Regions from separate parts of the Homo sapiens genome. Here region 2 is linked to region 1. The links come from fine-mapping of genetic effects on plasma protein levels. A gene starts in region 1. The other region holds a variant in brackets. All regions are shown on one strand. Distances are between the middles of the regions.

Evidence for each region. PIP is the chance, under the fine-mapping model, that this variant and not a neighbour inherited with it causes the effect. Protein levels are from antibody-based Olink assays in UK Biobank. Linkage for the fine-mapping came from a reference panel and not from the study's own genotypes, which makes the PIPs less certain.
Region 2: its variant is fine-mapped to the plasma level of the PDGFRB protein (UK Biobank, PIP above 0.99).

The regions. Positions count from the first base shown.
Region 1 is chr5:150,152,502-150,161,249 of GRCh38, reverse strand. PDGFRB (platelet derived growth factor receptor beta) reads left to right here and starts at 5,405. Exons shown (of 23, transcript NM_002609.4): 1 at 5,405-5,853. RefSeq lists enhancers at 1-324, 1,111-1,180, 2,699-3,487, 7,645-8,164, 8,165-8,685.
Region 2 is chr5:150,124,498-150,129,757 of GRCh38, reverse strand. It overlaps PDGFRB (platelet derived growth factor receptor beta), which reads left to right. Exons shown (of 23, transcript NM_002609.4): 10 at 1; 11 at 3,144-3,238; 12 at 4,181-4,313; 13 at 4,927-5,031. Among named protein-coding and RNA genes, the nearest start is that of PDGFRB, 29 kb to the left of the region's middle. RefSeq lists an enhancer at 1,467-1,968. The variant G/C (reference allele first, on the strand shown) is at 777.

The sequences.
Region 1 (8,748 bases):
CTCCCTCGAGCCCACAAAGCCCTGATGCCTGGCCACTGACCACCTCTCCAATCTTCCATCCCACTGCCGGCTCTCTGCCTCAACCATTCTTTTCTCTTTGTTCGAACCCATCAAGATCTCTCTGGCCTCCAAGCTTTTGCAGATGCTTTTCCCCCTGCCTCGAACACTGTTCCTACTCCTGAATGTGTGTGGCCTCACAGGCCTGCTTCCTCCCCACAGAAGCCCTATTGTACCTGAACAAGAACTCCCATCCACCCAGCTCATTATTCTCTTTGTCTCTTTCATCACACTCATCACAATTTGATATTATTAATTTGTGGTTTCCTCGGTGTTTGCTTGTGAACTCTGTGAGGACAGGAGGACAGGGCACATAGTAGGTCCTCAATTAACTTCTATCGCATGGATGGATGGTTGGAGGAACAGTTATCTTAGTGATAACTGGGTGTTAGATGGAGAGGCCCCACCCTAGGCCTGCTGTGTGCCCTCAAAAAAGTTCTGGTGCTCTCCAGACCTTAGGAGCCAGTGTATTCAGTGAGGGTGAGGGCCCTGCTCTTCTGGGGATCTATGAGCCATCTGCGTGTACCAGATGGACACACTCAAGTTGCCCACGGTCCTGGGGCTGAGAGGGAGGCCAGCAAGGGGGCAAGGAGAGGCTGAATGGGCAGTGTCTTGAAGCCTTTATCTCCTGGGACCCTGGCAGACCTCGGTGGCTACAGTCTGGCTCAGTAAGACAGTCCTAAGAATCTAGGGAGGGAATGTGGCCCAAGGCCCCTGCTGGTCTTTTGCCCACTCAGAAAGCCACTACACTGAGTGTCCAGGAGGTAGGGGGACAGTTCCCACTCTGTGCCTCTCTGGCTCCCCAGCCACAGGCACAAGGATCTACGTGCTCTGCTCAGGGCATGCATGGGTGGAAGGACACTGAGCTGGGGATCAGGAGTCCTGTATTCTAGCTTCCCTCAGCCCCACCGTGAACCTCAGACAAGTCCCCTCCACTCTCTGGGCCTCAGTGTCCATGCCAGCAGAAGGGACATATCTTAGGGTCCTGACGTCTAAGATGACTGTGTGAGCGCCTGGGGTATGTGTGCTGCTTCCTCATCACCCCCCACCCCCACCCCACAACTCTGCCTGGGGAGCCTGGGAGTGGGGGCAGAGCCAGGAGCGTGGGAGAGCCAGATGTGGTGGCCGCTGCCCTGCCTGAGTGAGGGCTGAGCGGCCTCCTGGGAATTCTCCCACTCAGGCTCCCTTTCCGGTTCCCTCCCCCTGCCCCACTGAGAGCAGCAACTTCCGGCTCTGACAAGCGTGGGTGGGGGAGGGGGGTCTTAGCACGGGGGTCTGTTCAGCCTGGTTCCCTCCTCTGGGGAAGAGCATGGGCTTATGAGTCTAGACAGAAAGCCTCGGTTCCAGTCCCAGTCTGTGGCTGACACATCACAAGGCCTTGCACAAGTTCCTTTCCATCACTGGCCTCAGTCATACCGGCTGTGTAATGAGCATGTTGGTGAGCTTCCCTCCAGCCCTGATGGTGGACTTCTATGACAGCAGCTCTTGGTAACACCTGAGGATCAGTCACCTTTTTTTTTTTTTTTGAGATGGAGTTTCACTCTTGTTGCCCAGACTGGAGTGCAATGGCGCCATCTCAGCTCACCACAACGTCTGCCTCCCGGGTTCAAGCAATTCTCTGGCCTCAGCCTCCCGAGTAGCTGGGATTACAGGCATGCACCACCACACCCAGCTAATTTTGTATTTTTAGTGGAGACTGGGTTTCTCCATGTTGGCCAGGCTGGTCTCAAACTCCTGACCTCAGGTGATCCACCCACCTTGGCCTCCCAAAGTGCTGGGATTATAGACGTGAGCCACCGCGCCCAGCTGGATCAGTCACCTTTTGTGGCACTTTCTTGTTTTGCTCGAGGCTTGACAAAATGCCTGTGGGCATGGCTTATTCAGGTCTCTCCACAACCCTGTGAGGTAGGCACATGTGTCCCCATTTCACAGTTGAAGGTACTGAGGCTCAGAGAGCTCAGGTCATATCATCTCCCAGCGTCACATGGCTGGGAAGTGGTGGAGCTGGGTTGGAGCTGCCAACATCAGAGTCCAGACATTTAACTCTTGAGTGTGCCACCGTGCTGTGGGGGAAGGCAGTGTGGAACCCTAAGGCCCAGAGCCCCCCTCTCCCACTGTACCCCATCCCAGTCCACTTCAGGCAGGGCTCCCCACATTCCATGCTCTGCCCACCTACTCTCAGCCCAGGCTTCCCCAAGACAGCATTGTCCAAGGCTGGACTGGGTTCCCAGTATCTGTGTAGGTGTGAGGATGTTCATAGCTTGTCCTGTCCACAGTGGGGCTGGGGGCCATGCTGACCACCCCAGGGTGATGGTGCTGCACTGCCCATGTGCCCCGTCCATTGCCGCTGAAGGCAGAGTGCACAAGGGGAATCCAAGACCCAGAAAAGGGAGGCTCCGCCCAGGAAGACACAGTGATGGAATGCTGCTCGAATGAGGAAACTCACTATTTCAGTAATAGTGTACACTTAGTACACTTCGAGGCAATGTACTAAGTCCTTTGTACAAACCGAAGAGTCTTATGAATCAGTCTTTGACTTGTCTCCATTTTCCAGAGGAGGAAACCAAGGCCAGGAGTTTAAGTGACTTGCCTAAGCTCATGTAGCTTGAAACTGGAGCAGCTGGGATTCGAACCCAGCTCTATCTCTAGCTCTCCAACCTCCTCTGTCAATCATGACAATTTTGCCCCTTGGTGAGTGCCCTGGGTTGCTCCCTGTAGCTCTGCACCTCCCACCCATATCTCAGTTGAGAGGAGGAGTGACAGTCCTGGTGCCCACCAAGGGTTAATGGCAGTAGGGGCTAAGTAATTCCAGATGGGCCTCAGGACGGCTGGGCTGGCCGGAAACTGGAGGCCGCCAGCTTCCCAGGGGAGCCACCGCCAACTGCCCCTCCCCTTTGTGCTGCATCTCTGGCCCCAGCTGTACCCCTGCCCTAGGGCCCACCAGCCTCCTCTCCCTTGCTAGAGTCCAGCTCTAAGGGAAATTGCAGACGGACCATCCCAAGGGCCTTGTAGCACAGTGAGTCCACAACTGTTATGTACAAATAGGGAAACCGAGGCTCAGGCAGGGCAAGGGACTTATTCAAGTTCTCCTGATAAGTCTGTGGCTGGGTCTTCTGACTCCCAGACTAGCTTCTTTGGGGACTAGGGGGTTGGTGTGTCTCGTGGCCTCCCCCAGGCTGGCCTGGCTGCAGAGGGTCAGCCAAGGATTCAGAGGTGAATGGCCCAGGCAGATGCTAGGAGGGGAGTCGTAAATTTCTGACGGAATCTTTGGGCACAAGAAATCCCTGTGCAAGCCTGACCTTGTGGCCTGTGGGATCTTTTCACATTCCCCTATTTCCCTGTTGCCACAAAGACCTGGCCAGGCCCCCTCTCTCGGGGTACTCTTATGGTCCCCAACCCGTGGCTGGGAACCAGTCTGAGAACACTTCTCCTTCTATGTGGTCCAGCCCAGATGCTCTGCTGGGCAATCCCGATTGGGACTAGACCAAGAAATGCAAGATAGTTGACTGTGGTGGGCATGGAATCCCAGCTCACGCAAATCCTCTGCTCTGTGAACAGGGGTCTGGGGGAAGCTGAGGAGGAAAGACTTAGCGGCGCAGAGGGAAGGAGGGCAGAGCCAGCCTCTACCTGTGTCACCTGGGACAGCTTTCTTCACCCTCTGGAATTCAGTTGCCCTGTGGGTGCAGTAGTGGGAGCAGGGGTGGTAAGCCCACTCTATATGCCCTTCTAAAATAATGCCCTTTGCCATCTGAGGGCTAGGAGTCTGTAACTGGAGATGTCTTCTGATCTGAGAAGCTGAGGGTGGAAGAAGAGACCCAGCTGGGGGAACTGGAGGAGTCTTGGCAGACCCTGGTAGGAAAGGAGAGCCAGAGAATGGAAATGGAACAAAACGGATACTTGAAAGTATCTTGTTGAGGCTGGGTGCGGTGGCTCAAGCCTGTAATCCCAGCACTTTGGGAGGCTGAGGTGGGTGGATCATGAAGTCAGGGGTTTGAGACCAGCCTGGCCAACATAGTGAAACCCGGTCTCTACAAAAAATACAAAAATAGCCAGGTGTGGTGGTGTGCGCCTGTAATCCCAGCTACTTGGGAGTCTGAGGCAGGAGAGTCACTTGAACCTGGGAGGCGGAGGTTGCAGTGAGCCTAGACTGCGCCATTGCACTCCAGCCTGGGAGACAGAGCAAGACTCCATCTCAAAAAAAAAAAAAAAAAAAAAAAGAAAGTATCTTGTTGAGTGACTGAATGAAAGAGCCACAGGGGGAACCTAGGAAGAAAGCAGGGCAGGGGGTTCATCTACACTGGAATAGGGGTCTCGGGTGGGGGTCAGATGACTTGTGTCTCTTCCATCATGTGTCTCATGAGACCTAGTTCTGCCCCAGCTCTGCCATTGCTGCGTAAGCTTGGGAAGCTTATTTTGCTCCTCTGGGCCTCAGTGTCCCCATCTATAAAATGGGGCAAATAATCCTCTCCTTGCACCCCAGGGGCTTTGAGACGTGAAAAGGAATGTATCTGTCAATATCCAGAGATATCCAATCTGTGCTGGATGACCTTGACCAAATCACATTCCCTCTCTGTGCCAATTCACCCCTGGGCCTTGGTTTGTCCTTCTGAAAAACGGCTGATCATCTTGGAGGATCTTTCCATCTCCTCCATGTCACCTCTTCTCAGCAGTGCTCTCTGATTCTCTCAGGCTTCCGTTAGGGGTCCTTCTAAATGCACTCTCAGCCTCCTGTCTGCCGACCGGGCACCTGCTTGCCCAATGAATATCTTGCTCACTAGCCTGGTGCTTCTGAGGTCAGGACCACGTCTTGCTACTGTCCCCTGCACCCAGTACAGTGTTAGAATGTAGTAAATGCTCAGTATGCTTGTTCAATGAATGAAGGTTGACTGAATCAACCACAGAGATGATCAGAGTCTCCTTTACAGATGGGGAAACTGAGGCACTGAGAAATGATCTCCCTGGGTGCCATGGCAAGGGGAGGCCGCCACCCGACATGGGCATCGGGAAAGTGGGGCCGAGGCCACTCTTTGACAAAAGTGACTCAGCAGCTGGCGGCTGGCGTGGGCTGTGGAATTTCTAAGCATCCCCTCACATCCTGAGCGAACGGGCGATGGGAGGGAGTAAGCAGAGTGAAAAGAAGAAAAACAAGAAACTTGGGGGAAAAGAAAGAGAGAGGGGGAAAAAAACTGAAATTGAAAACAGACGCACGCGTCCACCCTCCCTGCCCCGCCGCCCCCCCTTCTCCCAGCTGGGCCAATCAGAAGCCACCCTGCAGCCTTTCCCCCAAAGTGGCGGGGGAAGTGGGGGGGCATGGAAGCCCATAGTGGTGTGAGCTCCTGAGGCTGCCAGCAGCCAGCAGTGACTGCCCGCCCTATCTGGGACCCAGGATCGCTCTGTGAGCAACTTGGAGCCAGAGAGGAGATCAACAAGGAGGAGGAGAGAGCCGGCCCCTCAGCCCTGCTGCCCAGCAGCAGCCTGTGCTCGCCCTGCCCAACGCAGACAGCCAGACCCAGGGCGGCCCCTCTGGCGGCTCTGCTCCTCCCGAAGGATGCTTGGGGAGTGAGGCGAAGCTGGGCCGCTCCTCTCCCCTACAGCAGCCCCCTTCCTCCATCCCTCTGTTCTCCTGAGCCTTCAGGAGCCTGCACCAGTCCTGCCTGTCCTTCTACTCAGCTGTTACCCACTCTGGGACCAGCAGTCTTTCTGATAACTGGGAGAGGGCAGTAAGGAGGACTTCCTGGAGGGGGTGACTGTCCAGAGCCTGGAACTGTGCCCACACCAGAAGCCATCAGCAGCAAGGTAAGTGCTGGAAAAAGTGGGAACCCCAGCCCCATGCCCTGTCCCTTTGCCCTAACCTGCATCTCTTCGAGTAGGTAAAAAAAAAAAAAAAAAAAAAAAGGGAAGATATTTTTAACAAAACAAGATGAGAGGAGGCTGGGAGACTGTGGGTGATGTCAGGGATGGAGGAGCCAGTTTTCTCCTTTCCCCTGCTCTGGGGTGAGTGGCCTCCACCTCATCATCCCTGCTGCTCCTGCCTTCATCAAACAATCCTCAGGGGTTTCTGGGTGCTGACTGGGGGCCTCCAAAGCACAGCACAGTCAATGGGGAGTGGGGAGAGCTGGGAAGAGCGGGAGAGGGGAATTGGGAGAAGGTAGGCAGGGTACACAGAAAGCAGGGGACTGGGGACCTCAGGACCATAGCCGCTGTTCCTTGGCCCAAGCCTTGTTTCTAAGAATCAGTCTGGCTTTAGGCCAGTCAGCCGCCAGGCAACCTCTGGGGATTTAAATGGATTTGCAAATTTTCTAGATTCTTAAGATATCCTTCTAAACCCCCAGCAGCTAGAAAAGTTTGAGGGCTAGGAAAGTTCGAGGGTGATGGGCGGCCATGGCAACCCCCTAGCGGTCATGCTGCTGGGTCTGGGGGCTGGGACCTGGCTGTCAGATCTGGGGGCTCCTCTGTGAAGAAGGGGTCAGCCACTGGGCCATTTCCTTTGGTCCCAGGCAGCTGCTCAGGCCTCCTCGTTGTCTCCCTCCTTCTGGACTCTACCCCTTCTCCATGCCATTCTAAAGCATAAATCCAATCACACCACCTCCCTGCCCAGGATCCGCCTATGGCTCCCCAGTGCCTGGAGAAAGTCCCAGCTCCTAACAGAGGCTGCCACTGCTTGACACTTACTGCACGCCGCAACTGTGCTGAGTGCTTTATGAGACTGATCTCATGTAATGCTCACCAGCAACCCCAGAGGCAGTGACTGTTTTTACCTCCGTTTTATACATGAGGAACTTGAGGCTCACGCAGCCACATAACTGTAGCCACACAGCTAGTAAGTGGCACAGCCTGGAGAGGTTGGAATCTCCCCGTGCCCCATTACTCCAAACTTGGGCCTTTTGTTCCCGCCAGTCAGATCCCAGAATTCCCAGAAGGAATGCGCACCATCCTGCTTGTGGGCATTTGCCCTCCCTCTTCCCCCTTTCTGGAATGCCCTTCCTCATCACTTTTCTTTCAGGGATATTCCATACACCACCTCTTCCAGGCAGCCTTCCTAGGTTCTTCCTGTCTTCCAAGTGCTAGCCATGCACTTTGTGCTGAAGCCATGTTACTTGGCCCTCCCCTGTTGGTGATCTGTTTATGTTCTGTTTGTTCATCAGAGATTGTTCAGGCCCCAGCAGTCAGAACTGAGGCCGCACTTTCTGCTGGGGAAAGGTTTAAGGTTTCCCCATCCTGTGCTCTTCCCCCAGTGCCCAGCCCTGGATAGGCAGTGCGGCTGAAAAAATGTCCTGGTGAAAGGGAGGAGGAGCTCACTGAAGACCTTCTGCTCCCAAGTGTGAGACTAGAACCCAGGCCTCCAGCCTTCTCACAGGTGCCCTTCCAGGACATCGTGTGGCTACTCCAGGCAGCATTCCTCCATTGCAAGCAGGGAGGAGTATCTCTGCTTCCCTCTGTGACCTCCCAATTGCACAGAGGCCTCTAGTGACAAGTTCTGAAGTCATGCAGTCCTCCCCTGTCTCCAAGCAGGAGACCCTGAATCCACAGCCTTCAGGGACATACAGTCCCTGAACACCTACCTCATGCAGGCATAGAGCCTGGTACTTCACACACCTTGGAGTCCTCATGGCAAGTTTTTGAAATCAGTGTTATTACCTACTTTTTGTAGATGAGGAAGCTGAGATCTGGAGAGGCTAAGTGACTTTCCCAGGGCCATACGGTGAGTTAAGGTGGTGTTTAGGCTGAAGTCTGCCTGACTCTAAAGGCTTACCTCGTGCTCCCCGGGAAGCTCCCAGTCAGAGGGAAGAATCTCCATCCTCCTGCAGAGCCTGCTCCTGGCTTCAGCACCTTCCCCAGCAGAAAGTGCAGCCTCAGGTCTGACTGCTCCAAGGTCTGCCCGGGCCCTGGCTTGGTCTTGAGAGAGGAAAGAGACCATCTGGTCAGCACCCTCCTCCCAGACAGCAGTTATCAGCAGCCCCCCTCCTCTGCGGGAAGAAGAGCTGGGACTTATAATTGCCCACACATGTGGGGCAGGCAGTGGAAAGCACCGTGGATCCAGAGTCAGGAGACCCAGTGCTTGCCCTGGCTTGATTTAAATCCACCGTGTGGCCAACCTCAGACCCCCCACATCCCATCTCTGGGCTCCTTCCGCAGCTGGGAGGCAGTGAGCGCTGTGGGTAACCAGCACCAGGCTTGGGCATCAGATGACTATGCATTGACCCCGAGTCAGTTTCTGGCTGACTGTGTGACCCCGGGGCAGCACCTTGCCTCTCTGGGCCTCAATCTCCTTCTCTGTGAGCAGCAGGACCGTGTGTGGGCTCCATGAGACAACAGCATTGGCAAGGTGCTTACCACAGTTCCTGCACTTCACAGCTGGACCTCTGGCCACTGGCTGAGAGAACCACTGCTCTCCTGGCCTCCTGCATTGGAACACTTGGCTGTGAAATTAATCTGCAACCTGCAAAAGGCTCTGCCCACAGAAGGGACCTGGACACCATGTATGTTCCAAAGATCCGTGTCCATCCTCCAGGCACAGGCCACAGTCTGACTCTGAGACCAGCTGCCTTCTAGGCTAAAGGAGGGTGCTCTGGGCATTGGCTCAGAACAGGCTGCTGCTGAATGCAGTGGGAAGGGAGAAAGGGATGAAAAGGTCTTCTGAAATGCCCACCCATTTCTTGCATTTGATTCAGAACCCAGTGGGCAGTGGGT
Region 2 (5,260 bases), 30 kb after region 1:
TGTGAGTCCCCAGCCTCAGTGGCCCCTGACGATCCCAATCCCTACCTTAATCCTGCCTAATTGGTAATGTGCCCATGTACCCACAGCAGGCCAAAGGAGTTAGCATGCCCAGGGGCAAACAGGAGCATTGTGAAACCCTGTTGTGTACATGCATAGGAACACATTCTGGCAAACACAATATGGGTACACACGTGTACAAACACAAGTCTGTAAGCCATGGATATGAATATCCTTCAGTGTGGTGTACATATACTATATGTATGTCGTAAGCCATGTACATGAGCATGCCTGTTCCTTGAACATAGGTGCAAATCCTCTGTGTGTAGATATGTAAATCGTCTACTGAAGAATGCCCAATCTCCAGTCACTCCTGTAAAGCTAGAGTGTATGTGTATAAGCATACACCTGTGCACTATGCCTGTCCATGTATGTAAACCCACCACGTGTTTGTAAGCCATGTACATGAGCATGCCTAATTCCCAGACATCTGTTTAAACCCCACAGTGTATGTCTGTATGCATGTACCGGTGGGTACACAATTCCTGTACATGTGTACAAGCAATGCATGTACAATTCCTTTGCATGCATGCAAACTGGCATAGTGCATGTCTGTAAGCATATAATTGGAGCACACCTTTCTAGAAAAGTGTACAAGCATAATTCCCGTACACATGTGCCTGCTGTACAATGTACATCTGTTAGCAGGTACACATACACGTGTAATTTCTGTGCGTATGAACAATGCCTACCAGTGTCTTGATGCTTTTGTGTATCTA[G/C]CTGCCCGTCCTTATGCATACATGCACCTGTATGAGTGTGCTTCATTTATTCACCTTTCTTCTTCATTCGATAAATATGAGGACCCAACTTCTCATTGAAGTATAAAGGTCAAAGGGCTCAGCCCTGCCTGGACCTCCTAGTACCCATAGTCCAGAGAGAGAAGGCAGACAAGGAACTTGGCAATTCCCTCCGGGATCACCACATTAGGGGCAAAGCCTGGAGGGAGAAGGGGTCCCATGCCCAGCTATGGGATTCAGGAAAGTATTCTAGAAAAGGAACCTTTAGGTGAAAACCTGAAAAATGACTAGAAGTTAGCCTGGTAAGGAATGGTGTCCCACTCAGAGGGAATGGCCTGTGTAAAAGCCCAGAGGCAAAATGAGTTCCTAGAAATGAAAAGAGTTCAACTCAATCTGGCTGGAGGATCGAGTGTGTGGATACTTAGGGGCTGGAAGGGTGGCAGATAAAGGGGAAGGAAGTGCTATGGGATGGAGCTACAGGGGTCGGCAGATCTAGAGCAGGCAGGGCTCCAAAGGCCATGTGAGGCATCTTGGTCTCTGTGTATGCAGGTCCCTGGGCATGTTCAGGCACGTGCCTGTCTAGAGCTGCCTCCTGTCCCCTGCCCTGTGGTGGATGGGTGGGCTTCTTTCATCCCCTCATTTCACCCATGCTCCCACACATGCATACACATTCTCTGAGCAAGTGGGTATCTGGGCAGACAGTGTGGACAGCCTGAGTGGAAGACCAGCTCTGAGCCAAGGCAGATGTGACACTTTTGTGTGACTAAAGCCTGAGCGGGAAGCTGAGCACCAGCACACAGGGCCTAGGATGGCTGCAAGAGGGCTCCTTCATGCCTCCAGCGATGGCTGCCTAGAAGATGCAGGCTTCCTTCCCAGGACCGAGATGTGTGATGAGCGGGAGGAGGGAGGAGAAGAGGGATGTTGGTCTGGGACCCTGAGGAGGAAGGCATGGCGAGGATAGGTAAGGGTAAGGGAGAATGGATAAGGGGTGAGAGACGAAGTTGGAGAGGGAAGCAGAGGTAGAGTCATGAAGCCTCTGCCTTATGTGCCATTTTAGGAGTTTGGCCTTTTTCCTTTACTGATAACATGGGGAAGCATCCAAAGTTTTTTTTTTTTTTTTTTTTTTTTTTAAGATGGAGTCTGGCTCTGTTGCCCAGGCTGGAGTGCAGTGGTGTGATCTCGGCTCACTGCAAGCTCTGCCTCCCGGGTTCAAACAATTCTCCTGCCTCAGCCTCCCAAATAGCTGGGATGACAGCAGTCCACCACCACGCCCAGCTATTTTTTGTATTTTTAGTAGAAATGGGATTTCACCATATTGGCCAGGCCGGTCTTGAACTCCTGACCTCGTGATCCGCCCACCTTGGCCTCCCAAAGTGCTGGGATTACAGGCATGAGCCACTGCACCCAGCCTCCATCCAAAGATTTTAAGCATAACAATGGCATTCACTTAGTAATTCAACAAATAGTACCAGCTACCTACCATGTGCCAGGTGTGGTTTTAGGGACTGAGGTTATAGCAATGGATGGGGAGGAGGAGGTGGGACAGGACTCCCTAGGGAGCAAAGAAGCATAGATTGGGGACAGAAGAGGAGGGAATGAGTTCCATAGGACCTCATGGGTGGCCAGCAGGGCAGGGCAGGGGAGAGGCAGGTCTGGCGGGGCTGGATGAGGAGAGTGGGAAGCTGTACAGCGAAGAGGCTGAGGCCTTGAGGGTGGAGGAGACTCGAGGCTTGTAAGGGCCAGTGTGAGCCCCACTTTGTTAACTACCGTCACCACTCCAACCCCAACTGGGCCCTTTGGGTGAAGTGGGGAGAAGTGGCCTCCGTGCTGAGGTCTGGATTCATCAGGCTGGGGGTCTCAGCCATTGCTCCCTCAGTGGCCACTCACTCAGTCCACCGGCCACTCGGTCAGGCATGGAGCTTGGAGTCTGACCGAGCTGTGGCAGCCCCAGCAAGGGTGTGGACTCAGAGGAGAGGTAAGCCACAACCCAGCCCTCAGGGGCTCCAGGGCTAATGGGAGGTCCAGGCAATGGACAGGAACTCAGAACAGGATTTGCACCCCGTCCAGAGCTCTGGCAGCAAGGCCAGACTGACTGGCAGGGCTGAAGGGACGTGGAGGCCAGCAGTGATCTGAGTGGGGGTAGTTACTGAGGGGATGGAGTATTTACAGGACAGTCTGAACGTGTGGCCTAGAGCGAGATGCTGAGGGTCTGACACTGCAGGCTGATGGGGAGGTGGGCGCTTCTATTCTGGACAGGATGTGTACGGAGGGATCTATGATGCCAAAGATGGGGTGAGGGGAGGGTAGCTGCCCAGTTTGCTCATGGCCTGCTCTCATCTCTGCCTCCAGCCTTGCCCTTTAAGGTGGTGGTGATCTCAGCCATCCTGGCCCTGGTGGTGCTCACCATCATCTCCCTTATCATCCTCATCATGCTTTGGCAGAAGGTAAGCCCCTCCCTGGCCCAGTGGGTGAAGACTGGCACATCATTATTTTGCATAAATTCCACCCCTCTGCCCTCCTTGAATGCTGCGTGATCTGGCCACATGCAGGGCTCAGCATGGAACTCAGGTGGGGACTTGTGACGCTGGCTGTCTCAGCTTCCTCCACCCCCAGCAGTCTGGGCCAACCTGAGCCTGGCCCGAGCTATCCAGGATTCCCTTCCCCTACTGTGTCATTAAGTCCCCGGGTCCTGCTGAGACACCATTCCTCTCATCCTAGCCATGGAGCATGGGACCTTTGAGGTGGACTGCATGGGCTCCAGGATTCTTCCAGGTCTCACCCATGGAGAACCTGTGATTCTACTGAAATGCATTCTGATCCTATTAGTCTGTAATTTCAGTGTTCTGCTTTGAGATTTTACCATTCTGTGATTCCAACATTTTAAGCTTCCTGAATCAGGATTACAGCACCTCATGATCCCATCTTTCTAAAATTCCAGTCCTGTGGTTCCAACACCTTAAGATGTCAACATTCTAAGCTTACATCTTTCTGACTTGCCCAGCACTGGGGAGGGCCATCCGCATCCAGCCGAGTACCCTACCTGGTGTCACTTTCTGGGGTCACCTGCTCTACTACTTCCATCTGAGGAGCAGCGAAGGCTGGGAGAGAAGCTAGAGAGGAGGTTCTCATGAGCCAGGCCCTCAGCTGCCAGTTGCTCCTCAGTCTGCCAAGTCCTGAAGCCTCCTCTGGGGCCCCTTGGTCCCTGTTCCCTCCGAGCCCACGAAGACCTTGGCTCAGTTGAGCACTTGCTGTGTGACTTCAAATATGCCCCTGCCCCTCTCTGGGCCTCAGGGTCTCCTGCCCCATGTGTCCTAGACGGACGAACCTAATGGGGCTCAGGGCCTGAGACTCCCTCTGATAACTAATTCCTGGGGTTGGTCCTCCAGAAGCCACGTTACGAGATCCGATGGAAGGTGATTGAGTCTGTGAGCTCTGACGGCCATGAGTACATCTACGTGGACCCCATGCAGCTGCCCTATGACTCCACGTGGGAGCTGCCGCGGGACCAGCTTGTGCTGGGTCAGTCCTGAGAGGCCTCATGTGGCAGTGTGGGGACTCAAGTTGGGTGGGAAGACTCTCTGAGGTCTGGTCCCAGCCTTGCCATGACTAGCTATGAGACCTAGGGCTGGTGTCTTGCCTTCTCTGGCCCTCCATCTCCTACTATGTACAATGAGAGCAAGACCATCCCCCAGGAACTGCCTAGCATTGAGGTTCTATGATCCTGTGACCCTGTGAGACGGGATCCCTATGTGGCAAAAGTGGAAGGATTGAGGACAGGCTGAGTAGCAGGCCTGGTCTGGCTGGGGAAGCTGAGGAGGTACAGAGAAGCGTGCTCCCTTGGGAGGGAAGAAACTTTCCAGAGATTAAAGATGGGGCAGAAAGCAGGCAGGACTTAGATGAGATACCAGGAAAGACAGGGAGGTATTGTGGTTGCAGGAGTGTGTTTAGGGAATATCCTGAGTCCAAGGTGGTTTAAGTAATGTCTAGGTTGACCTAAGAGAGTGGCTCTTTCCCCTCACTGGGCAGGAAGGGTGATAGCGGCCGGGGGTAGGGGAGTGGGGGGAGGGGGGCAGCTGGGGGAGCGGTGCAGCTTCCTGGTAGGCCAGGAGCTAATGGATCATCTCTGCACCAGGACGCACCCTCGGCTCTGGGGCCTTTGGGCAGGTGGTGGAGGCCACGGCTCATGGCCTGAGCCATTCTCAGGCCACGATGAAAGTGGCCGTCAAGATGCTTAAATGTGAGTAGTCCTTGGAGCCCTCCACATCTGGGCCTTCACCTCTCCCTGCCCCTCCCCACACACTTAGCCTCTCCCAGGGTGGCCTGATGCTGATTTGCAGGCACTAGAGGGGCCATCACACTGCAGCAGGCACTGCTCCCGAGTCTGGGTCTGGTTTGGGAAAGAGCGTTCCTCTCCCTGGCCTCCTCGGCCTGCTTCCCCCTACCCTGGCCTCTTCCCCTCCTCAGAG